7 linked regions of the Homo sapiens genome follow. The protein of the gene in region 1 purifies or fractionates together with the protein of each later gene. This does not show direct contact. Each region holds a gene or a part of one and is shown on either strand. Other genes may lie near its edges.

Region 1 (3,500 bases):
GATAATGACAAGTCAACGTAGACCCACTGACTGTGGGCAGATGCTAGGAATGGAGGAGGCTGTCTGAGGAGAGGGTACATGGAGAATCTCTGTACTTTCCTCTCAATTTAGCTATGAAGCTAAAACTGCTTGCAAAAACAGCGTTTATAAATTTTTTTGAGACAGAGTCTCGCTCTGTCGCCCAGGCTGGAGTGCAGTGGCGCAATCTCAGCTCACTGCAAGCTCCGCCTCCCGGGTTCACGCCATTCTCCTTCCTCAGCCTCCGGAGCAGCTGGGACTACAGGTGCCTGGCGCCATGCCCGGCTAATTTTTTTGTATTTTTAGTAGAGACGGGGATTCGCTGTGTTAGCCAGGATGGTCTTATCTCCTGACCTCGTGATCCGCCCGCCTCGGCCTTCCAAAGTGCTGGGATGACAGGCGTGAGCCACTGTGCTGGGCCCAAAATGTATAAATTTTTTAAAAAATGGGAGCAAGCATGGGCTCAATTAATTCCAACGGTCAACGCTGCCAAATTACTAAGATTTCTCTTGCCCTAAGGCACTTATCTCACCAACCTCAGCTTCTTTTTTCTTCGCACGAACTTTTTCCACTTCCATAAGAATCTTCTGGGATTCATCCACATTACCTTCAGCCCCTAGCTGTTCGGCTTTAGCAAGGAGTTTTCCTATTTCTTCATTTAACTCATGTACTTTTTCTGCCTGTGAGGAGAAAGAATGAGGTAAGCAGACATCTGAAAATGAAAGTGAATGCAAAGGCAACAAGGGTTTCTCCTGCTCCATTTCCAGTCTGAAAATAAGTGGAAGAGCTAAAGATCCACACTTAACAATGAAGGCATCCTTACTGCCAGCATTGAGACTGTAACCATAAACGAGTCCTATGTTCCAATGAAACCAGTGGCACCTTTGTCACTTCCGACATGCTTCCAAGGATCATCACAGATTGGTCATTGTCTAGGCTGTCTCTCTTTATGACTTTTTCTTCTGGGTATGGTAATAAAATGCCTAGGTTTAAATGTACAGATTTAAGCTGTAACCAAAATACCTAATTACTAGGATTTACCTTCTGAAACAAAATAGCACCGTTGGTCAAATTAGCAATTGCATAAATCCTAAGAAATGCTTTTACAACACTGAAAAGAAAAAACAAGGAGAGGCTTAGTTCCACTGAAGAGAAAAACAGAAGAGTGATGTAAATGGCACTCAGTCTAATTACATATAAATCTACCTCCTTTTCATTCTATGATATGGATGTACCACAGTTTGACCATTTCCTTACCAATTCTTTCCAGTTTTATGTGGAGATATTAAAGTTTAAAACAACATGCAGAGGCTGGGCATGCTGGCTCACACCTGTAATCCCAGCACTTCGGGAGGACAAGGCGGGAGGATTGCTTAAGCCCAAGAGTTCCAGACCAGCTTGGGCAACAGACTCCATCTTTATTAAAAAAAAAAAAAAAAAAAAAAAAGATGGCTGGGTGCAGTGGCTCATGCCTGTAATCCCAGTACTTTGGGAAAACGAGGCGGGCAGATCACGAGGTCAAGAGATCGAGACCATCCTGGCTAACACAGTGAAACCCCGTCTCTACTAAAAATACAAAAAATTAGCTGGGCGTGGTGGTGGGCACCTGTAGTCCCAGCTACTCAGGAGGCTGAGGCAGGAGAATGGCGTAAACCCAGGAGGCGGAGCTTGCAGTGAGTCGAGATCACGCCACTGCCCTCCAGCCTGGGCGACAGAACAAGACTCTGTCTCTTAAAAAAAAAAAAAAACCGACAATAATTTTTTTTTCTTTTGAGGCAGGGTCTCACTCTGTTATCCAGGCTGAAGCAAAGTAGCATGATCACAGCTCATTGAAGCCTCAATCTCCCCAAGCTCAAGTGATCCTCCCACCTCAGCCTCCTGAGTAACTGGGATACACATGTGCACCACCAAGCCTGGCTAATATATGTATTTTTTGTAGAGATGGGGTTTCTTCATGTTGCTCAGGTCTAAAACTCCTGGGCTCAAGCAGTCTGCCCCCACCTTGGTGTCCCAAAGTGCTGGGACTACAAGCATAAGCCACCAAACTCAGCGAAGAATATATTAAAATTAAAAAATAATGATAAACCATGTACAGAGGACGAAAATGGAGAGAATAAAAAGACAGAGGTAGCAGCTCCTGAGGGATGAGAATTCCATGACACATGAATGCTTGATCACAGCCCTCTATCCTTAACTGGAGTAAGGCAGAGAGTACTGTCCACACAATCAGTGCTGAGGGTCAGTTAATAGCTATTGACAACGCCGGGCGCGGTGGCTCACGCCTGTAATCCCAGCACTTTGGGAGGCTGAGGCAGGCAGATCACGAGGTCAGGAGATCAAGACCATACCGGCTAACACGGTGAAACCCCGTCTCTACTAAAAATACAAAAAATTAGCCGGGCATGGTGGCGGGCGTCTGCAGTCCCAGCTACTCGGGAGGCTGAGGCAGGAGAATGGCATGAACCCGGGAGGCGGAGCTTGCACTGAGCTGAGATCATGCCACTGCACTCCAGCCTGGGTGACAGAGGGAGACTCCATCTCAAAAAAAAAAGCTATTGACAAGCCAGTATTTTTAAGAACACACCAGACACCGAAGCCACCCAAGCATACCTTTGCAGAAACTTCCGCACTGATTTCCTCCTGTGTTTCTGCCAGCCGCTTCTTGGCGAGCTCAGTTCTCCGATCACATTCAGCAATAAAGGACTCCAAGTGATCCATTGCCTAGCACGGGAAAAGCACAGCGCTATAATCAATGATGTGTAAAGCGTAAAGTCTTAGAACCCATTTGCTTGATAGGAAATACACTCCTAGGTTCGTTTCTTTAAAGCCTGTACATTCAAGGGAAAGATCTTAAACTACACTACCACTAACGCATTCATAATTGCATTAAATCAAGGGGATCTGTTAAACAGAATGATTGTTTGGAAGCATGGTCTTCTCATTTGATTTACTTATTTCCAAAATTTGTAAAAGGACCTCCAACCCTCAATAACATTACAAAGAAATTCTGAGGAAAATTAAAACACTTGGCAGCAATTCATAGAGTTCTCGGAGGGACAGAAAAGGCTGAGCCTAGACTCGTGCTGGAGGCCCTCTTCTGGGGAGTTGTGAGAGATGCATATGATGTACTCACTGGTCTTTGTGAGCCACGTAAATATTATTCCCTCATGTTCTGAGGGTAGGGTCCCCCCTTTCACCTCAAAAACAAAACAATAGAACAAATATTACTGAGAGCTATGAATACATTTTGTTATTGCCTACTATCTAAAGTAGCAGGAAAAATTGGTTGCTATTTACCCAAAGAGATAAAGGAAAAGAAGCTGTAGACGTCAAATTGCTTACTCTGAAAAGGGTGGTGGGAAACATTAAGAGAACTATCATATGCTAAGGTTAATTCACCATAACTAGGCAAAGGCTAACATAATTTCAGATAAAAACAGAGACAGGACCGGACGCAGTGGCTCACACCTGTAATCCCAGCA
Region 2 (3,967 bases), on another chromosome or scaffold:
CATTTTTTCCACCAGGGTCAGGTTTATTCCTGATTAAAGATAAAATTACAAAGGCCACACTTACAGAGATCATTGTTGTAATTAAGCTTCAGCCTAATTATGTGTGAACCAATCCAATTATTCCCCAGAATATAAATTGTGTCAAAAACTGAGTGTGAATAGTCACTGGCATATACTAAGTATCATCAAAGATGATACAGTATCATATTTGCTAAGAGGAACATCTTACAAAAACTAGTCCTTATCTAAAAATAGCAACAACAACAGCAACAACAACAAAAGAATATTAACTCTAAAATAGAATCCAAAAAGGTCTTTTGGGAAGACCCATCTTTGTTTTTTTTTAAAAACATAAAAAAAAATCCTGTTTTTTCACTGCATATTTCTAAAATTCTATTTCCACCCACATGGTAAATTTTGTAGTCCTGAACAATGGCTTTAGATAGAAAAGCGTGCATGTAAGTTTAAGCACTACACTATTTTGCAGTGCTTTAACGTTTCCTTTCTTCCCCACAGATTGCCATGTAAAAGATGTTTCAATTCCTTAAAAGCTAGCCAAAGGCAGGGCTGGATGCATACAAAATAAAATTACAAAGTTGGAAACTTATAAATTTCAGTGAGTATTTGATCTGAAAGTCTTAAGTCTTCTTAATATTAGTAAAAAAACTGGGTCTTTAGTTTTTTAACGGAATTTAAAAACAATTCCTGGTAGAATCTTGTTTCAAAACACATTTGAAACTTAAAAACGAGACTTTCCTCTATTACATTAACATTTTGCCTATGTTAGAAAACAGAACCTGCCGCAGAAAGAGCAGGAACCCAATTTTCAACTGTTTAAAGTTTACTGCATAAATAAAGCTAAGGATTAAATGTTATTCACCATACTGTATCCATGCTAAAAAGGTCTTACCTTTTAAAAGCTAAAAAAACTAATTCATAGAATTACAATCAGACCTACTCTCGTAAGAGGATTCCAAATTTATTTGTGTACTTTATCAACCCAAAGTTGAACTGTATTCAAGAGATGTTTTCTATAAAAAGCAACTAATCTCTCAAAATCCTTCAATAACCTAATTACTCAACTGGGGGAAAAGGTGGGCAAGACAAAAGAGAATGTCCTTTTGTTACCATCTCTACACATACGTTCAAATGATAGAAAACACTTTGTGCGGTCTGTCAAGTTTTTAAGAGTGAATATAGACAAAAATGGATTGTGTATTAGATGCTCCGGATAAAATTTTTAAAGACCACTAAGGCTATTATTAATATTCTTTAAAATAGAAATTAACTTTCGGAGGCCTGGAAGGTATTTTTTATACTACATAATTTGCAGGGAAGTGGAAAAAGCCTACCTAATTGGTGAAGGACCAAAAGCAATGGCCAAAAAAACCCACAAAAATCTAATTAGTCGTTCATTTAACCAGGGAAATGCATTTATGGCGATTGAGCATGATTAATAGTGCATACCTCTACCTGCGACCCTGGGCTGCTCCGAGCCTCGCTGCAAGACTGAGTCAATCCTGCTAACGAAACAAGAACTGAGACAAGAGTGCAGTGAGGAGGCGCCAGGTGAGCTCCCCAGCACAGCCAAGCCAGCACCGACCCTGCCGCAGAAGCCCAGGGCCCAGATAATTCTAAATTAGCCCAATGCACAGGTGGCTGAGACCTCTTACTCCTGACTTCCTGCTGGGAAAATTTCCAGGCCTTCTGTACACCTCTTGAAATGGCACCTCTCCACCCTCATCCCCCCACCCCACCCGACACACACGCACTGACCATTTCCCTGCCTGGATCGGATAGTGAGTACCAACAACACGAGGCCAATACTGAAGTCATTACACGCCCTGGCCAGGGGTGAGCGGGAGAAGCACCAACAAGTTGGCGCTCAGCAGATCCACGTCAAAAGGAATAATTTTAAAGCTGTAAACTGGAAAGGCTTCTGTTACTCTTTCCTCCTCTCCCCCATCCCTCTTGCCCAACTCCCCCCAGGGGTGGGCAGGAGGTTGGGGGAGGAGAGAGATCAATAGTGGCGGGCTCTCCCGGCCCTAAAAATCTAAAATGGAAACGAGAGGGCGGCCCCAGTCCGACCCCTCCCAGACACACTACAGGCCGCAGCCACCCCTCCGCCGAACCACCTTCCCCCACCCACAAATCTTCAGATTTCGGGGGCCGCCTTCGCCCGTTTCCTCCATACCCCCTCTTCCGAACTTACCCCCAAAGCCAAGGCCTACACACTTCGTACCTTAAAGTAGATCTCGTCCACCACCTCGTGGTAGGTCTTGAGCTCGTAGAGCTGTACTTTGAAGTAAGGCGACGACAGGATGTTGGTCAGGATCATGGGGTTGAGGTTCATGGTCTTCTCGTTGCCCCAGAGCGGGAGCACATTGCCCTGCTTGCCGGAGACCGCCGGCTTGGTAGCGCCGCCGCCGCCGCACTGCTGCTGTTGCTGAGCCGCAGCTGCAGCCGCCTGGTGCTGCGGCTGCGAGTTGCCTGTCAGCGCGGGGCTGTTGTTAGCCATGTTGCGGCGGAAGGAAGGAGGGAGGGAAGGAGGGGGGGGAGGGGGCCAAGCTCGATCTCGCTCTTCGGGACAACGGTCTGGGACCCTACTCCATCGAACGTCGTCGGGAGAAGGGGCCGCCTCGCTGTGCCCCAGCTGGGCAAGAGAGGGCACCCGACGCCGACAAAATGACCCCGGGCCAAGAGCAGACAGCGAAACCCAGACCGCGAGAACTCCACGCAGAAGGCGAGCCGGCAGCCAGGGAGCTCGATCTCTTCCGCCAACTGCCCCTGGGAACAAGATGGCGGGCCCGGCGGATATGACGCCACGCACCCCAGCGTTCCAAGCTGAGCTGGCGGCCAATCAGAGACGCTCAGTTGGGCTGGAGCGTCCTCTTCCTAGGTCCCCGCGTTCTCTGCACGCTGAAGTCGCTGCAGTGACCTCCGTACCTGACTCTTAGGGGATTTCTCCTGAGAATTTGGGGGCCGGGGGAGAGGGTTGTAGGCCTAATCCGTTGTTGTTGTATTTTGACTGGGGGCTTGATTTCTTTTGTCGGGAGCTGAGCCAGGAAGGGTTCGCATGGCTGCGGTGTGCTTGCTAATATCGTCACTCTGACTTCTGCAGAGTATCCGAGAGGGGTCTCCTGGGATCTCAGTTTTAAGGTTCTCTGGAAGGTACAATGGTCAGGGACCCCACTCCTCCAGGAGATTCTGATCAAAGGTCACGTACTTCGCCAGCCTCTAGTGTCCAGCCAGAAGTCTTAAATTTATTCATCCGTAAGATTGAGATAACATCTGGCTGGGCTGTTGTGAGCATTGAAAGAGCTAATGTACTTGTAGTGCCTAGTAGACTGTTCCAGGCATCTGGTAGGCGCCTTTTCTTTTTCTCCCTGCTCCAGATCTTTGGATTCTAGGAATGTATCCGGAGTGATAAACATTGGGCGAGATACTGTATATTGGGAGTGGGTGTGTGAATGTGTGGGGAGTTTGAATGTGGCAATCTTGACTTCAGTGGCGCATACACAGGAGGAGAAAAGGATAAGATGGAAACTTTGGGGAAAATCCACATCTGGATGAAAATAAACCAGAAGAGGAGAGAGAGAGAGCGAAGACCAGCAGAAAAGTATTTAAACCAAGAGACAGTTGTTTGACAGAATACAAGGAAATAGAAAAGATAAGTGAATGGAGTGATTGATTAGTGTTTGGAGCTGTACGGTACGAAAGTGGATATCCTGTCTGGTTCCTTTGTTTTAGGTTGCAAGAGAACTAGAACCCTGAGAGGAGAAGCAGTTTTCACCTTCTTACTAGCAAATCTTGTTTTTCTCTATAGTGGTTTTTATTAACTTCCAAAGGAAAACTGAAGATCCTAACCCCTGTGTCATGAGTTATCACGTTAAAAGTCCATAGAAAAAATTTTTTTTAACCCAGTTCTTTTTGTGTATATATTTTTTGCCTTGATAATACTAGTTTA
Region 3 (3,500 bases), on another chromosome or scaffold:
AGTGGAGCGATTACGGCTCACTGCAACTTTTACCTCCTGGGTTCAAATGATTCTCCTGCCTTAACCTCTCGAGTAGCTGGGATTACAGGCATGCACCACCATACCTGGCTAATCTTTGTATTTTTAGTAGAGATGAGGTTTCACCATGTTGGCCAGGCTGGTCTTGAACTCCTGACTTCAAGTGATCCACCCACGTCAGCCTCCCAAAGTGCTGGGATTACAGGCATGAGCCACTGAGCCTGGCCTGATCATTGTTATGAACTTTTTGACTTTAATATAGTGGCCAGGAATACTAGGAAGTGTATTTATAATACCAGGAAATTTGCAGCAGAGATGAAGATCTACCTAATATAAATAGGTTCAGTGTCACTAATGCAGCAGAGATGAAGATCTACCTAATATAAATAGGTTCAGTGTCACTAAAAATTACAGACATGTAAATTAAAACAACATTGGGAAATTATTTTTGCCTATTAAATTCACAAAGATTACAATGATTTATAATATACACAAGCTGGGTAGGGTATGTTGAAATAAATACTCATAGAGTATTGAAGAATAAAAGGTACACAACTTTTTTTATAATACAGTTTTTTAAATAATACAGTTTCTGTTAAAATGCTACATGTTCATAATTTTTGACCCAGAAATTCAACTTCTAGATATGTATCCTACTGAAATATACAGATACTGAGGCATCCAGAGATACAAGTACAAAGTTACAAAGTTGTTCATTGCAACATTGTTTGTTTGTTTGTTTTTTTTTTTTTTGAGATGAAGCTTCACTCTTGTCCCCCAGGCTGGAGTGCAATGGCACGATCTCAGCTCACTGCAACCTCCACCTCCCGGGTTCAAGCTATTCTCCTGTCTCAGCCTCCCAAGTAGCTGGAATTACAGGTGCCTGTCACTGCGCCTAGCTAATTTTTTGTATTTTTAGTAGAGACAGAGTTTCACCATGTTGGCCAGGCTGGTCTCAAACTCCTGACCTCGGGTGATCTGCCTGTCTCGGCCTCCCAGAGTGCTGGGATTACAGGTGTGAGCCACCATGCCCGGCCCATTGCAGCATTGTTTCTAAAGGTGAAAATGTGAATACAGCCCAAAAGTTCATCAGTAGGATATTGCTAAAATAGATGCTGGTGCATCCATATGAATAAATTATATACAGTTTAAAAAAATTAAGTAGCATTTTATCTATAGATGTGGATAGCTAAGATACACTAAATTTATCAAGTAGGTTACAAAACCCTACCTATGTAATATCCACGTTATAAATAAATACATAAAGTCATAGTATATGCTAGTGTAATGTGAGTATGTGTGTATTAAAAAAAAAAAGTGGCCGGGTGTGGTGGCTCACGCCTGTAATCCCAGCACTTTGGGAGGCAGAGGCTGGCGGATCACCTGAGGTCAGCGAGTTCAAGACCAGCCTGATCAACATGGTGAAACCCTGTTTCTACTAAAAATACAAAAATTAGCTGGGCATAGTGGCAGGCACCTGTAATCCCAGCTACTCGGGAGGCTGAGGTAGGAGAATCGCTTGAACCTGGGAGGTAGAGGTTGCAGTGAGCCAAGATCGCTCCATTGCACTCCAGCCTGGGCAATAAGAGCAAAACTCTGTCTAAAAAAAAAAAAAAATCTGACAGAATATTTACCAAACTCTTAGCAGTGAATTATTTCTAAGTCACTAGTATTAGGGAAGCTTTTACATTTTATGTTAAATATTTTCTGTCATGTTTGACTTTTTTTTTTTACAGTAAGCATGCATTGTTAAAATCATCAAAGTAAGATTTAAAAACATGCAAAAGGAGCACAGACTAGATGTTGTTGTGCTATCAGTTGCAAGTATGAGCTGTACACTTAATTTTCTCCCCCTTTCTCAAATAGAATGCCCAGTGTTTACATGGGGACATTGCACAGTCACAAAGAGAAATTACACTAAAAGGCTTCAGAGAAGGTAGTTTTAAAGTTTTGGTGGCAACCAATGTGGCTGCCCGTGGTTTGGACATTCCTGAAGTTGACCTGGTGATTCAAAGTTCTCCTCCTCAGGTAGGAAATGGGATTTGATTTGGGAAAAATAAGAGCAATTTTATAAATTCCCATTTAATTTACAACATATTGCTTGGGATGTGAAAAATATGTCATCTCTTCTTGCTCTTAGCCATTTTTTGTTAGTGTGCTATTAAATTTATCAGATTCTGATACTTTTGCAGATGATTAACTCTATTGTTTGTATTTGAAGCATGGAGCAACAAAATCAGGCAGAGAATTACAAAAAGTTGCCATAAAGAAACCTGGGATGAGGTGGATTAAAAGGTTTTAAATCATATTGCCTTTACCCCAAAATCCACACATATAAATTGTTTGGAATGTTGAAAAGGGCAACAGGATTGAAATAAATATATTATTATTAACATTATTATTTGGATTCCGGAATGACTGCAACTTGCTAGATTTTTAAAAAATATTACCTTTTATAATCTTTAGGATGTTGAGTCCTATATCCATCGCTCTGGACGCACAGGTAGAGCTGGACGGACAGGGATTTGTATATGTTTTTATCAACCAAGAGAAAGAGGTCAACTAAGATATGTGGAACAAAAAGCAGTAAGTAGAGTTAAATTATTTCAGGCTTATTGTCTAAATGGTGCCTTAAAAGAGAGCTCTTCTTATATTTATTCTTACAAGTAGGTCTTCATAACTTTTCTCAGTTTAAGCTGCATTTGGCTGTGAAGCCTGTGGAGATCTAAATTTATATTAGCTTCAAGACTTTAATACAGCTTTTATTGTGAAGACAGTGGAGCTGACTTTCTCATCTTTTCCTTGAATTTCTCTCTTCATACTAAAATCAGAAGTGCATTGTGATTTCAGTACTTCTTAGTGTAAATGGGTGACTAAAAGATTGTCTTGGTATAATAGTTAAGATTCTTTTAAGTATGGTACAATAGACAGTTTCTAAAGAAACTGTACATTTTCTGTGGTCTGGATTTTTTGTGGTATTTCACATTTTTTCCTATTTTTATATGTGTTTTTATATGCAATTTCATATACTTTGTAAAATGAGATAGTGTAATAAGGAAAAAAGCTGATAGATTTAAACATCTGTTTTGTTTTGTTTTTTTTTCAAATCAGGCTTGTTTTACAAGTGAAATTCCATGATTGTAACTAAGGGGCAATTCAAAAAATTATTTTTCTCTTTCTGAAATTTGTAATTGATGATTTATGAGAAAAAAAAGATCTTGGCTGGGTGCAGTCACTCACGCCTGTAATCCCAGCACTTTGGGAGGCGGAGATGGGCAGATCACTTGAGGTCAGGAGTTTGAGACCAGCCTGCCCAACATGGTGAAACCCCATCTCTACTAAAAATACCAAAATTAGCTGGGCATGGTGGTAGACACCTGTAATCCCAGCTACTATGGAGGCTGAGGCAGGAGAATTGCTTGAGCCCAGGAGGTGGAGGTTGCAGTGAGCCAAGATCACGCCACTGCACTCCAGCCTGGGCA
Region 4 (3,500 bases), on another chromosome or scaffold:
CAACCTCTCACCTCCCCACCCGCATTAGGAGAACGCACTTTAAAGCAGAAAAGAAACCCTACCGGCCTCCTCCTTCTCCTCCTCAGCCTGGCCGCTCTCTGACTCCGACTCAGACTCTGACACGCTGCCCTCGTCAAAGCTGTCGTCACCACTGTGCTTCCGGTTCCGCTTCTTGCTACTCTGTGTGAGCCACAGCAGAGGGGACAAGTCAGCGTGCCAGAACCCCAGCCCCAACACTCTGACCCCAGGCCACAGACACCTCACCTTTTTGGCTTCCTTCTCGGAGTCTTCTTTCTTCTCTTCCTTGTCCCCATCACCCTCCGACTTCTTTGTTTTGTCATCATTAGAACTGTCATTCTCAGCCTATGGTAAGAGACAACCACTGGGGATGTCAAACCTCCCCTCCCACCTTTATCAGAGGGCCCCCACCCCCACAGCTGAGGCCACAGGTTCATTTTCCCCAGCCCCCTACTTCTAGCTCCTATGGACCCCTACCCGCCCCCCTCCCCCAGGCTGCCAGGGACAACACTAGGAGACCCAGGGCTCGGACCTGCTTGCCGTCTTCCTTCTTCTCATCCTTGTCGTTGGTTTTGCGCTCCCCGTCCCCTAGGCCTGCTCCAGCCCGTCCTTCTTCTTTCTTGCTGGGCTCCCCAGGCTTTCCTGCCTGCTCCTCCTCCTCCTCCTGCTCCAGGATGCGAAGATCATTCTCCGTGCCTCCTTCCATCTTAATCACGGCTACCAACAAAGGGAACAGAGGTCATGACCCCAGGGCCCTGGCTCCTGTCAACCGGCTTCTACCTGATCCCCAGACACCCCCACCCCCATGGGGCCCAGATGCCTGCCACCCCTCCAAATCCGCACACCTGCATCCAGCATCTTGACAATGGCATCAGCTTTGTCTATGTCCAGGAGAAGGTTATCAAACCAGCCAGTCTCCATGAGGGACAGGAAGACCCTCAGTCGGTTTTGCAGGGCCCCCCGGGCCTCCTGCCGACGCTTCCCCACCTCATCTGGGTGGTACTTAGACCGAAACCTGGGAACGAAGCGGGGGAGGGAAAGACAAAACAGTTATTGGAAGCCAAGGCCAGGATGTGGGAAGGGGCCCAGGAAAGACAGGGCATATCCCCCTTCCTCTCACAACCACAAAAGGTCATCAAAATAGAGAGATTAAGGGATAGGGGTGCGCTAGAACCACCCAACACCCCAAAAGGAACCAGAAGTTGTGTTCTGTGAAGATTTGGGGGAGAACCAGGAACTAAGAGCTCTGGATTTGGGAAGACCAATGACTACAGGGGGACGCCAGGGTAGGAGAGGCAGATTTACCACTTTAAATCTCTGGGAAACACTAACGTAGTAAAAAGGTGTCATTTCCCAAAGCTTCAGAGAGGAAGGCTCAGGAAATAGCAGGCCCTGAAGAACCTCCCTCTCCTCACCAACCCCAAACTGCAGTCATTCAAAAACTGCTCCCGCCAACTCCCTCCACCCCGAGGTGGAAGACAGAGGGCCAGATAGCAAAAGCCCAGAGGCAGGGCACCTTTCTCCACCCGTGGGAAGATAAGCAAGACGGTGAAGGGACAGGAAAGACCGAAGGGAGACACTGGAGTGCCCTTTAGAGCCTCAGGTCCTGCCCACAGGGGGAGAGAGAGGAGAGGGCTGGAAGGTTAGGGAGAAGAAAAATAAAACATTTCAAATAGGACCTCAGAGGGAAAACAGAAGAAATGAGGAGTATGAGGAAAAGGGGAAAGGGAGGAAAGGGGAGAGTGTGAGAAAGTCCCAGAAACCGAAAACAAAGGGAAAAACTAAAGATCAGAGAGAGAAACTAAAAAAACCAACAGGGAAGAAGGTGGTGTTAGGCAGGGAGCAAGAACAGAAACAGAGAAGAATGAAGGTGCTGAGAGATTAGGACAAAGACACAGAGCAATTCGAGAGAGGGGACAGCGAAGACAGAACAGAACCACGAGTGGGGCAGAAGAGGAAAGGAAAGCCGCAGGCATCACCTCCAGGATCTTTACCTTGGCCGCTTGGTCAAACAGAGCTCAAGATTTAACTAGCGGCGCCCAGGGCCCATGCTGGCTGGTGGGCCACCGGCTGGCTCCTGGCTGGGCGCCCGGCCGAGATGCCCACGCGGGACTCCGCAGTGGGGCCTGACTGGCTAGCTGCCTGAGCAATCACATTCAGCTAAACCGCTGCATTGTGCACAGCAGTGCCCTGGCCTGTCTGCCTGGCCGGGGCCGCGCAGCTCAGCCCAGGGGCTCATGTATGGGCTGGGTATGGTGGGGGTGGAGGTGGGTTTGCTCCGAGCTCCGTCGATGAGCGGGTGTAGTTCCCAGTTCTGGCTCTTTTCAAGGAGGAGGAGCAGAAAGAGGATGAGGAGGAGGAGGAGCAGGAAGGGGGGAAAAGATGGTTGATTAAAATTAAAACATCCACAAAAGGAAAAAAAAATTAAAATTCTTTTTCTGTCAAACGACCGAGATCTTTGCTTTTCTTGTCTGGATTCACTCGTCGCTTTAGGAGGACGCCACAGCCACACAGGGTCCTGGTGATCAGGGATGACAATGACCCAACACCAACAAGTGGGAAGCAGTCTGTCTGCTGCCCCAAGGGGCCAAGTGGCTCTGGCCTGCTGCCTGGAGGTGTCCCACTCTCTGAGGACAGCAGGACAGGAGACAGGGCGGGGCGGGGGCCGTGGCAGTTGCTGAAGTGAGGGGGAGACCCCATCAGCCAATGCTGTCATACTTCCCGACCCCCGCCCCCAGAAAGTTCTGGACAGGGAAAACTGGGAAGAGGACAGGGCTGTGGCTCCACCAGCGGGGCCAGGGGGACATGCCAGGGCAGAGGTCCAGGGAAGTAGGGGCACTCACCACTCCTCATCTTTGTGCGCCAGGAAGAAATCCTGCATCTGTTGCCTCCGGAAATCCAGCTTGTAGTCATTATAGCGCTTGACGGCCTCCGTCTCATCCACCGAGTCATCCAGGGAGAGGAGAAACTCCTTGAAGGTCTTCATCACGGGCGGCGGCACACCCAGGTCAATCTCTGCAATGCTGCCCAGCCTGGAGGGGACCCCGGTCAGGAAGGCTTGGTTTTTGGGGAACGGTGGGAGGCTACAGGGGCCAAAGTAGCTGGGGCCCCTTTACTTTGTCCACCATGGACATCACCCCAAACCCCAACAGCTACCACCCCTACCCCAGGGACATGCCTCTGTGTGCCTGACCCGCTCCCTGGCTTCAGCCATGGCCTTCAGCAACCCCATCCATCCCCCAGGCCTACCAACCCTCTTCTGAGAAGCCCCACCCTTACCTGGCCTGGATAGGCAGGACATGGTGCTGCATGATGTGGACGTCAGGGTGGCCCCAGGGCTGAGGGGGGCCATAAGTTGGGCCCCCACCCCCCCCAGCATAGGGCATCTCATAGCCACTGTGGTATGGGTCAGAGCTGTGCTCATCCCTGAAGGTGGGGGACACAAAAGTAAAGCAGAGAAGGGAGTCACCTCCCCAGAGCAT
Region 5 (3,037 bases), on another chromosome or scaffold:
GACGGCAGAAGGGTCCAGAGAGTCCGAGGCCCGGGCCCAGGGAGCGGGTCGGGAACAGAGGCACGACATCGGCGGGAGGTCGGAGGCGGGCAGTGGAACCCTTCTTGGGAAGCTCGGTTACAGGGGCCAACAGAGCGAGGAGCTGCCGCCCCCTGGTGGTAGTTGTGGGAGGCACCAAGGTGGCAGGCAGGTGACCAAACCCCTAATTTAACCGTGCACAGGACCAGGAACCAGAAGAGGACCCACCCTCCTAGCCCTGCTGGGGTGCCGCCACGGACACAGGTTGCTCCATGCCTTCCCGAATGAGGAAGGTCCACAGCTTTGGGTTGGTCAGGGCCAAGGCAGGGGATAAAAGACGTGGGAAGTTCAATAAGCAGGAAGCAGTCAGCCTAAAGGAACACATGGAATGAGAGCAACTCCTACTCCAGATATCCTCAGATGTCCACGCTCAGATATCCACAGTGGCTTCTTAACCTGCCCAAAGAAAGCCACTCACACAGTTTAAAACTAAGTCAGATTTTTATTTTTTTTTCCATAGACCACATCATTTAATAATAAAAAAAATAAAAATAAAAATTGAACAAAAGGAAAAGGTGGATATAAAGTGGAACCTGTGGGAAAGAGGCAAGGGCTGCAGGACAGAAGAGACTGGGAACTGCAGGGGCCCTGGGACTCAGGAGGAGATGCTGATTCAGCTCATAGGTGACCCAGTCCTGGCCCCGGCTGTTCCCAAGAGAAGGCTGTAAGTACCCAGGGAGGTGGTAAGCAGGATGGAGGAAAAATCAGAGGACTGGGGCACCTGGCTGTTCCCCATCTCTGGCCAACCACCTCCTTGCCTAACCTAGCTCTTGCCTCTCAGACTTAATGGGAAATGAGAGGGAGGGTCGGGCTAAGTCCCAAGAGATAGGTTAAGGGGGTGTGTTTGGGGGGAAAAGGATGGCCACTTTTCCATTTGGTATGTATGTAGGGATAGGTGATGTGAAAGACCCTTGGCTCCAGGGTGGTGGAGACTGTGCCTATCCCTCTGTGGCCATAACCCCCTGGGGCCGAGTGGCTGGTACCTGCAGCTCTAGTGTTTTCCCAGCTAGCGGCGCCCACCCCGGTCCCGCACAGGTGTGCTCCGACTCCGGCTTCTGCTGTGGCGCTTGGTGTCCCTGCGATCCCTTTCCCTGCCTCGTTCTCGGTCCCTTTCCCTATCCCGATCTCGGTCCCCCCTGTCCCGCTCCCTTTCTCTCTCTCTCTCCCTGTCCCTCTCCCGACTGTGCTCCCGACGTTTCTCTCGCTCCAGCTGTCGGTTCCGTTCCCGCTCGGCTTCCTTCTCCCGCTCCTTTTGCTCTTCTTCTTCTTGCTCCTTTCGCCGCTTCTCCCGCTCCTTGGCCCGTTCGGCCCGCTCTGCCTCTTTCTGAACGATCTGTAGCCAGGTAGGAAAGGCAGAGAATAGGCAGCTCAGTCCTGGTCACAGCCTCCATTTGTGCCTGGACCCTGCCTCCTAGCTCAGGGTCAGCTTTTCAGTTAAACAGGAAGGGGTTGGGGGCTCAACAACTGCATCCTGTCTTTCTTAGAGCACCTCTCTCCCTCCTAGTTTCAGCCTTTTTTTTTTTTTTTCTGAGACGGAGTCTCGCTCCGTCGCCCAGGCTGGGAGTGCAGTGGCACGATCTCGGCTCACTGCAAGCTCCACCTCCCGGGTTCACACCATTCTCCTGCCTCAGCCTGCTGAGCAGCTGGGACCACAGGCGCCCGCGACCACGCCCGGCTAATTTTTTTGTATTTTCAGTAGAGACGGGGCTTCACCGTTGTTAGCCAGGATGGTCTTGATCTCCTGACCTCGTGATCCGCCCGCCTCAGGCTCCCAAAGTGCTGGGATTACAGGCGTGAGCCACCGCGCCCCGCCAGTTTTTTTTTTTTTTTTTTTTTGAGACAGTCTCACTCTGTCGCCCAGGCTGGAGTGCAGTGGTGCTATCTTGGCTCACTGTGGTCTCCGACTCGCAGGTTCAAGTGATTCTCCTGCCTCAGCCTCCCTAGTAGCTGGGATTACAGGTGTCTGCCACCATGCCCCACTAAGTTTTGTATTTTTAGTAGAGATGGGGTTTCACCATGTTGGCCAGGATGGTATCAAACTCCTGGCTTAGATGGAGGCTTAGATGATCCGCCCACCTCAGCCTCCCAAAGTGCTGGGATTACAGGCATGAGCCACCATGCCTAGCCACCAAGTTTCAACTTTTACACACATTGACAGGTACTGGCACCATCCATGCCTGGCCCTTGGTATTTCCCTAGCTCCCTACCGTCAGCGTAGATGTGAACAAATCTCTTTTTTGAGTAGCATAAGCCTAAAATTCCCAAAAGGCCCATTACTAAGAAACTAAGTTAAAGATGCAAAAACTCTTAAAAAGCAGGGAAATGAATTTATAAAACACGATTTCTCAGCTAAATACAATCAAGTTCTTTTTTTTTTTTTAATTGTCTGAGACAGAGTTTTGTTCTTGTTGCCCAGGCTGGAGTGCAATGGCACGGTCTCTGCTCACTGCAACCTCCGCCTCCCGGGTTCAAGCAATTCTCCTCCTCAGCCTCCCAAGTAGCTGGGATTACGGGCGCTTGCCACTGCACCCGGCTAATTTTTGTTATTTTTAGTAGAGACAGGGTTTCCATGTTGGCCAGACTGGTCTGCAACTCCTGACCTGAGGTGATCCACCCGACTCGGCCTCCCAAAGTGCTGGCATTAGAGGCGTGAGCCACCACGCACGGCCTAAAATCAAGTTCTAAGAAGCCTGGTCGGCACAGCCAGCTTCCCAGACATCCACAAACTTCAGCTGCTATCTGCGTGTCTATCTTTACCCTCCTGAGTCTGGTTTCTCTATGTTATACCAATTAACTGAAAACTGCCTTTTTGTGATGCTTAGTTTATCCTAAACCTAGGAAGTACTTGGGCCGACTCACTCTCGCAGTCACATGAATCTCCCCTCACCCTGACCTCAAGCCTCAGTGCCACTAGGGAGCAGGGCACGAAGAAGAGCACTCACCTGGCTGTCAGTCAGTG
Region 6 (4,090 bases), on another chromosome or scaffold:
GGCGGCCTCCTATCCCCGGGGCCTGAAGCCACGTAGCCCCGCGATGCCAGAGGAGGGGCACTGGGTGGGGAGGGAGGTGGAGGAGCCGTGCAATCCCAACCAGGATGTCTAGCACCCCCATCCCCTTGGCCCTTCCTCATGCTTCTGAAGTGGACATATTCAGCCTTGGCGAGAAGCTCCGTTGCACGGGTTTCCCCTTGAGCCCATTTTACAGATGAGGAAACTGAGTCCGGAGAGGAAAAGGGACATGGCTCCCGTGCACTAGCTTGTTACAGCTGCCTCTGTCCCCACATGTGGGGGCACCTTCTCCAGTAGGATTCGGAAAAGATTGTACATATGGGAGGAGGGGGCAGATTCCTGGCCCTCCCTCCCCAGACTTGAAGGTGGGGGGTAGGTTGGTTGTTCAGAGTCTTCCCAATAAAGATGAGTTTTTGAGCCTCCGGGGTTTCGTCTGTTCTGGGCTTGGGAAACGCCCTAGTCCCTTAGTAGCAAAGAAAGCCTCCAGGCTGGGGGCTCAGGCCTGTCATCCCAGCACTTTGGGAGGCCAAAGCAGGAGGATCGCTTGAGCTCACGAGTTTGAGACCAGCCTGGGCAACATGACGAAACCTAGTCTCTACAAAAAATACAAAAATTAGCCGGGCGTGGTGCTGCGCGCCTGTAATCCCAGCTACTCTAGAGGCTGAGGTGGGAGGATCGCTTGAGCCCAGGAGGTGGACGTTGCAGTGAGCCAAGACCGCACCACTGCACTCCAGCTTGGGCGACAGCGCGAGGCTGTGTCTCAAAAAAATAAAAAATGAAAATGAAAATAAAAAATGAGACCGGGCATGGTGGCTCATGGCTGTAATCCCAGCACTTTGGGAGGCCGAGGCAGGTGGATCACCTGAGGTCAGGAGTTTGAGACCAGCCTAACCAAAATGGTGAAACCCCATCTCTACTAAAAATACAAAAATTAGCCGGGCTTGGTGGCGCGCGCTTGTAGTCCCAGCTACTCGGGAGGCTGAGGTGGGAGAATAGCTGAAACCCAGGAGGCAAAGGTTGCAGTGAGCCTAGATCGCGCCACTGCCTTCTAGCCTGGGAGACAAAGAGAGACTCCGTCTCAAAAAAATAAAATTAAATAAATAAATAAAATAAAAAAGATAAAAAGATAAAGCATCCAAGCTCTTCCCTTCTCCGCTCTCCCACTTCTTCCTCGGGATCCCGCCCCTCTCGACTCTAGGACCCGCCTCTCTCGTCGGCGGAAGTGCGCTGCGCGGCCCTCCACCATGCTCCGCCCCCTCCCCCTAGCGCGGCCTTTCATTTCCGCTTCCGGTGCGGGCCGCGCGCGAGCGCAGCGGTGGGAGGCGGCGACCAGCCGGTGAGTGCAGGCTGCGGCTCGACCTCCCGGTTTTCGGGCAGGCCTCAGCCCAGCTTCTCCCTTTCCTCAGGCTCTCCCCATGCTGCTGTGGGCTTCTGCTGCGTCCCGGCCCCGAGGATCGCTCGTCCCTCACCCCATTAGGCCTGACGGGCCTCAGGCCGAGCCCGTGCCCCGGCTGTGGGCCAGAAGTTGCCGCGTCGAACTCGGCCTTCGGCCCAGCAGCTTATCACAGGCCCCGCCCCCTTGTCAAAAAAAAAAACAACAAAAAAAAAACCCAGCCCAAATCCTCAGGCCGCGACGCGATCCACAAGCCCCGTCCAAACCTTCGGTCTCCGCCCTTTCCCGCAAGCCCTGCCCCCAAGCTCAGCCCACGCCCTCCTGTCAGCCAGCTCCGCCTCTCTCAGGCTCTACGCTCTTTTTCTTTGGATGCTCTCCCCACCCCGCCATCTAGATCCCATCTTTAGACCTCAGCTTCACTCTGGTCTCCTTGCAACACTCCCTCCCCGTGTTCCCACTCCCTCTAGCATCTTCATCTTCCGCCACGCCCTTCACCTGTCCTCGACCTCCACCTTCATACAACTGCACTGTTCCCTTAAAAGCTTTCTCCGATTTCCTCCACCTGCCTTCATCCTTATTCTCCTTATCCCTCTACCACCCAGACTCATACCCAACCCCACGCATGGCCCCTAGTGGGAGCCTTTTCAGTTCTTCTCTTTCTCTTGAGCTCCAGCCTTAAGTGCTCAGGGTTTGCCTTCTGACCCTACTTCAAACACTGCTGATGTTTCAAAACCTTTCATTCCCGACTCCAGCGCGTGGAATCTAGGACACCCCTTTCCCAGTGATGCTCACCTCAGAATCACCTGAGGGTTTTTCAGAATGCCCAAGCTTCTAGATCGAAGTTGTTAGGGATGGACTTGAACATCTGGCATACTGTTCTGCAGCTTCACTTCTGCTCCCTGAAGCTAAGAGATGTGTTGTTTGGGATCGACTCTGCCACCAACTTGTTAGATGACTTTGATTCTGCCCATACGGGTTTCACAGACCATCTGACTTTCCTGGTCCCTTCATCCCTCAGGTTGAGGCCCCAGGCTTGGCCTCACCACAATGTGGCACGAGGCTCGGAAGCATGAGCGGAAGCTTCGAGGCATGATGGTCGACTACAAGAAGAGGGCGGAGCGGAGACGGGAGTATTATGAAAAGATCGTGAGTAACTGGCCTTTTGTCTGGGGTGAGGGACCCTGGGTTGGGGGGCACAGCTGGTCATCCTGGTAAAATCTGGGCTTGGAAGTATGTCAAGACAAGAGGCTCATTTCCTCAGGAGTATATTCATTAATCTTTTCTTGAGGATAATCATTGGTGGGATCCCAAGGGCTTCTGTTTGTTGTAGCATACTGTGTCGTTTGGTGTGGCCTCCCAGTGCCGATCCGGTGTTAGCAAGAAAAAGGGAAGTCTCTGTAACCCTCAGAGCAGTCCTGACGTTAGACTGGCCACCTCCAGAATGTCTGTTTCGCTTATTGCTGTGTTCCCCATTCCCAGAAGAGCTCAGCCACTCTTGAGATTTGGCTTGGCACACAATAGGAGTGAGTATTAAGTTGGCCTGGCACAGTGGCTCACGCCTGTAATCCCAAGTGGATCACCTGAGGTCACGAGTTCGAGACCAGCCTGGCCAAAAGGGTGAAACCCCATCTCTACTAAAGATACAAAAATTAGCCAGGCTTAGTGGTGTGTGCATGTAGTCCCAGCTACTTGGGAGGCTGACGCACGAGAATTGCTTGAGCCCGGGAGGAGGAGGCTGTAGTGCATGGAGATTGTGCCACTGAACTCCAGCCTGGGTGACAGAGCAAGACTCAACGCCTGTAATCCCAGCACTTTGGGAGGCCGAGGTGGACAGATCACAAGGTCAAGAGATCGAGACCGTCCTGGCTAACACGGTGAAACCCCATCTCTATTAAAATACAAAAAATTAGCCAGGTGAGGTGGCGGGTGCCTGTAGTCCCAGCTACTCGGGAGGCTGAGGCAGGAGAATGGTGTGAACCGGGGAGGGGGGCAGAGCGGAGCCTGCAGTGAGCTGAGATAGCACCATTGCACTCCAGCCTGGGCGACAGCGAGACTCTGTCTCAAAAAAAAAAAAAAAAAGACTGTCTCAAAAAAAAAGGAGTGAATATTAAGTGAAACCTGACCACTTCCCTCTCCTGTCTGATGCTTCAGTTGTTTTTGCGGGGAAGACCAAACTATCCCTGGCCTAAAAGACCCTTGTGGTCTGACCACTCAGCTTCATACTCGGACAGCTCCACTGGCCTTCTATTTCTGCCACCACAGGGCTTTGGCCTATATTACCCCCCCTCACCTATTTAACTCCTGTGTATCCTTGGGATCCCAGCTTGAAATGGCACCTGTTTTCTAGGTTCAGTGTTCCTGTCAGATGACATTTATATAGACCTTTCCCAGTTATTCCTGTATTACTGCCCCAGCCTCCTCCCTGGTCTGCTGGCCTCCAGTCCTGGCTCCTCCAGTCTGTCCTTCCTAGAAGAGTCCAAGAGGCCTTTCTAAAGCACAAAACTGACCCTGTCCCTTCGTTGCTCAGAGCACCTCTATGCCTCCTAAGTGCCCTTGAGAGAAAGCCCAGGCTCCTCACTGTGGCCTTTAGGGTCCTGCATGGCCTGGCCTTTGCCCTTCCTCCAGACTCACACCACCCCACACTCTGCCTTGTTCCTTTGCACAAGTCATTTTGGCCTC
Region 7 (3,500 bases), on another chromosome or scaffold:
GGACAGCTATGACACGGATTCAGAATAAGGTAGAACCCCACTCATGGGGCCTTACTTGTCAACAGTAGAGACCTCTTTATAACACAGTCCCTTGGCATGGACCCCAAGGACTGTGTTATAGCAAGATATATACTGGATGTTATCAGGGTGACAAAATAAACTGTCCTGGGAAGTCAAAGAAGGGTAGGAAGGAGGTAGGAGTGTATAATGCAGCACCATTCTTTTCAAAGTGAACCCAAGCTCTGTTGGGCTCTTCGCTTGAGAAAAGGCTGCAGTGCTCATACCTCATTGCCTCCTTGTATTTCAGAATGAGTTTCTGCTTCTCTTCTTTCTCCTCCACCCAGTACTCACTTGGAATGACAAAGTTAGATGTGATCCGGCATTCTGGGCAGGACCTGGGAAACAATGAACAGGCTGCAATGCAAATTCCCCTTTTACAGGCCCACTCTTCAAGGACACACCCTGGTGTGTCGCCTCCAGACTTAAAGACTTAACTGAAAGGCACGTGGGCATTTCCTGAAAGGGTTCCACATACTGTCACACAACTGACCATTTCTTTCAAGCAAGGCAACCTCCTTTATAAATCCAACTCAAGGGCTAGCCAGTTCTTTTTTTTTTTTTTTGAAAAATATAACTTAGGTAAAAAACAAAAACAAAAGAAGACATTTCACACAGACTCCTTTTTCTTTCGTTTAAATAAATTTATTTCTTGTAGCTTTGCTCTGTTTAGATTATGTGGTTTTTGTTCAGTTATGAGAACAATCTTTAAAGGATGGTGGATTGTTGGCTAGCTTAATGAATGGAATAGGAAAGTGGAAATGTAAAACGTCAGGAAACATACATTCAGAGCTAGATCAGTTTGTTCACTGAGCCTAAACTGGCTAATAATCCATTAAACACAATCTCCTCAGAAAAAGCACGAAGATTCTAACTGATACACAGGGTTTCCTCATTCAAATAAAAGTAGATAGACCAACTAACCTAGAAGCTAGCTGAAATACAAAGAAGAAATCCCCATTAGAATATCCCAGTTTCAAGATAAAATGCATGCATTTAAATGCGGTCCATCTGGTTGAAAGTTGGCACAAGTTACTAAATTCTTCCCCAAAAGAGAAAGCACAAATGAAGACTGGGGAGGAGTCTCACTTTATGATCTTGCTCTCAAATTGCTTAGCACTCCTCCACTTGCGAATGCACTTGAGACAGTAGGTGTGGTTGCAGTTGGAGAGGATCCCGAAGCGGCGCTCACTGGGGTTGGCTTTCTCATAGACCACCTCCATGCAGATCCCACACACCATGTCCTTGCTGCGCTGCACGGCAAATGAGAGCTCCATGTCCTTCTCATGGGCCTCAATGCACGACTAGAGAAGGTGGAGAGAGAACAAGTGGAATCCAGTCATTGAACCCTGAAAAACTTGAGCAACAGTTAATGATTCACAGTCAAAGAATCAAATAGTCAACTGAAAAAACAATGTTCCCAAGCTGACACGAAAATTAGCTTTGCTGACAAGTAAACACAGGTGTGGTGTTTTTTTTTTGTTTGTTTGTTTTTGCGGTGGTACTTAACAATACTAGAAAATCAAACTATGAGGACTCAACTTCGGGAACTGAAAAATTACCCAATTTTCTCTACCCCAAACCTGGAGCTCAACTACATTAAAGACGGTTTTCCATACTGTTTGTTATTTCTGGTTTCTACATGAGGTTAAGACCCTAGTTAAAACCTGTCGGAAAATAAGGGTGACAGGCACGTAAACTCTCTTATGCCTTTAAAGAAAAACAACTTCATCGAGATTTTTCAACTACTCAGCTTGATAGACTGATGCACACTTAGGTTAGGTTAGATTAGCCCACTTTGGGGCTATTATAAATAATGCTGCCAAGAACATTCATGTACCAATTTTTGTGTGGACATCATATTTTAACTTATAAAAAACATGATTATAGGAAACATAAAAATGCAGAAAACTCCCAGCACTTTGGAAGGCCAAGGTTGGGTGGATCACATGAGGCCTGGAGTTCGAGACCAGCCTGGTCAACATGGCGAAACCCCATCTCTACTAAAAATACAAAACTGAGGCAGGCGTGGTGGTGCATGCCTGTAGTCCCAGCTATTCGGGAGGCAGAGGCTGCAGTGAGCCGAGACTGCACTGCTACACTCCAGCCTGGGGGACAAAGCAAGACTCTGTCTCAAAAAAAAATAAAAATAAAAAAAATAACACTGCAGAAGAGCAATGTCATCCATAATCTCACATCATCACTAAACATGTCTTTTCCTAAACCTTTAAAAGAAAAAACATATATACATATATTCAGAGGTAGGTTCTACTACCTCAATATATAGATATAACGTATAGAGATTTATCCTGCCTAAATTCACAAAAGTACGCTGAAGATAGGGATCAAATTATGTCTACCTTATAACATGCCTCACACCCTAAAACCACATTTAAAAAGATGGAAATTTAAAAGAGATGGAAATGATTAGAAGCAAACTTTGCTCCAATAAAGTTAAAGTTTCTAACACAATGTCTTCTGAACCTACCCTGGCTCCCATACACTGCTGCTGGAAATGTAAAATCCTGCAGCCACTGTGGAAAAGTATGGCAGTTCATCAAAACGTAAAGCAGAGTTCCTATGTAACCCAGCAATTCCACTCCTAGGTAACGGAAAACATATCTTCACAGAAAAACCTATATACAAATGTTCCTAGCAGCCTTATTCATAATAGCCAAAAACTGGAAATGATCTAAGTGTCCATCAACTCATGAATGGAAAAACAAATGTGGTCTAGCCATACAAAGACAATAATTCAGCCATCAAAACTAAGAACGGCTACACGCAACCACACAAAGAACCTTGAAAACACTATGTTAAGTGAAAGAAGTGAAGTCAATCACAAAGGACCACATTACAGGATTCCATTTACATGAAATGTCCACAATAGGCCAATCCAGAGACAAAGCAGATTCGTTATTGCCAGGAGCTGGAGGAAGGCTGGAATAAAGAGTGACTGCTAATGGGTGTAGGATGATCAAATTATCCTAAAATTAGTAAAATGGTAATGGTTGCACATCTCTGTAAATATACTAAAAACCAATGAAATGTGCATTTTCAAAAGATTAAACATATTCAATGTGAATCTCAGAAACATTATTTTTTAAAAGAGGAAAAAAATGTTAGAAGTCTATAGTCTGAGTTTCTGGAAGTAGGACTTCTTTTTTTCTTTTGCCTCAACCTCCTGGGCTTGAGCGATCCTCTTGCCTCAGCCTAACAAGTAGCTGGGACTATAGACACATGCCTCCATGCCCAGTTAATTTTGTTCACTGGAAATATGACTTCTTGATAAAGCATCCAAGAAGCCCAAGAAAGGAAAACTTCCCTACTCACTGATAACCATTCAATTCATCAAATGTTTCTCTGAAATAAACCCACAATGCTGTGAAAGGGCAAATAATGATTCTCACATCTAATAACACACACATCTCCCTAAAGACTTA

What was found.
Region 2: the proteins of LUC7L (region 1) and PRPF38B purify together in Homo sapiens (affinity purification with mass spectrometry; 3 studies listed by BioGRID and IntAct, with this or other methods). This does not show direct contact.
Region 3: the proteins of LUC7L (region 1) and DDX50 purify together in Homo sapiens (affinity purification with mass spectrometry; 3 studies listed by BioGRID and IntAct, with this or other methods). This does not show direct contact.
Region 4: the proteins of LUC7L (region 1) and SRRT purify together in Homo sapiens (affinity purification with mass spectrometry; 3 studies listed by BioGRID and IntAct, with this or other methods). This does not show direct contact.
Region 5: the proteins of LUC7L (region 1) and ACIN1 purify together in Homo sapiens (affinity purification with mass spectrometry; 3 studies listed by BioGRID and IntAct, with this or other methods). This does not show direct contact.
Region 6: the proteins of LUC7L (region 1) and CLASRP purify together in Homo sapiens (affinity purification with mass spectrometry; 3 studies listed by BioGRID and IntAct, with this or other methods). This does not show direct contact.
Region 7: the proteins of LUC7L (region 1) and MKRN1 purify together in Homo sapiens (affinity purification with mass spectrometry; 3 studies listed by BioGRID and IntAct, with this or other methods). This does not show direct contact.

The regions. Positions count from the first base shown.
Region 1 is NC_000016.10:205,450-208,949, forward strand, and holds part of LUC7L (putative RNA-binding protein Luc7-like 1), read right to left. Parts: intron 3,216-3,500; exon of another isoform or gene 3,152-3,215; intron 2,740-3,151; coding exon 2,629-2,739; intron 699-2,628; coding exon 555-698; intron 1-554. UniProt on the Homo sapiens protein: May bind to RNA via its Arg/Ser-rich domain.
Region 2 is NC_000001.11:108,691,143-108,695,109, reverse strand, and holds the start of PRPF38B (pre-mRNA-splicing factor 38B), read right to left. Parts: upstream 2,801-3,967; 5' UTR 2,519-2,800; coding exon 2,243-2,518; intron 1,521-2,242; exon of another isoform or gene 1,468-1,520; intron 1-1,467. UniProt on the Homo sapiens protein: May be required for pre-mRNA splicing.
Region 3 is NC_000010.11:68,932,315-68,935,814, forward strand, and holds part of DDX50 (ATP-dependent RNA helicase DDX50), read left to right. Parts: intron 1-1,884; coding exon 1,885-2,046; intron 2,047-2,484; coding exon 2,485-2,604; intron 2,605-3,500. UniProt on the Homo sapiens protein: ATP-dependent RNA helicase that may play a role in various aspects of RNA metabolism including pre-mRNA splicing or ribosomal RNA production.
Region 4 is NC_000007.14:100,881,603-100,885,102, reverse strand, and holds part of SRRT (serrate RNA effector molecule homolog), read right to left. Parts: intron 3,445-3,500; coding exon 3,298-3,444; intron 3,051-3,297; coding exon 2,862-3,050; intron 1,034-2,861; coding exon 864-1,033; intron 736-863; coding exon 551-735; intron 364-550; coding exon 265-363; intron 181-264; coding exon 63-180; intron 1-62. UniProt on the Homo sapiens protein: Acts as a mediator between the cap-binding complex (CBC) and the primary microRNAs (miRNAs) processing machinery during cell proliferation.
Region 5 is NC_000014.9:23,058,064-23,061,100, forward strand, and holds the end of ACIN1 (apoptotic chromatin condensation inducer in the nucleus), read right to left. Parts: coding exon 3,021-3,037; intron 1,412-3,020; coding exon 1,085-1,411; 3' UTR 501-1,084; downstream 1-500.
Region 6 is NC_000019.10:45,037,755-45,041,844, forward strand, and holds the start of CLASRP (CLK4-associating serine/arginine rich protein), read left to right. Parts: upstream 1-1,290; 5' UTR 1,291-1,354; intron 1,355-2,429; 5' UTR 2,430-2,458; coding exon 2,459-2,557; intron 2,558-4,090. Other genes in the region: transcription factor RelB, read left to right, coding at 1-36. UniProt on the Homo sapiens protein: Probably functions as an alternative splicing regulator. May regulate the mRNA splicing of genes such as CLK1. May act by regulating members of the CLK kinase family.
Region 7 is NC_000007.14:140,455,506-140,459,005, forward strand, and holds part of MKRN1 (E3 ubiquitin-protein ligase makorin-1), read right to left. Parts: intron 1,362-3,500; coding exon 1,147-1,361; coding exon of another isoform or gene 1,143-1,146; exon of another isoform or gene 710-1,142; intron 396-709; coding exon 285-395; intron 1-284. UniProt on the Homo sapiens protein: E3 ubiquitin ligase catalyzing the covalent attachment of ubiquitin moieties onto substrate proteins. These substrates include FILIP1, p53/TP53, CDKN1A and TERT.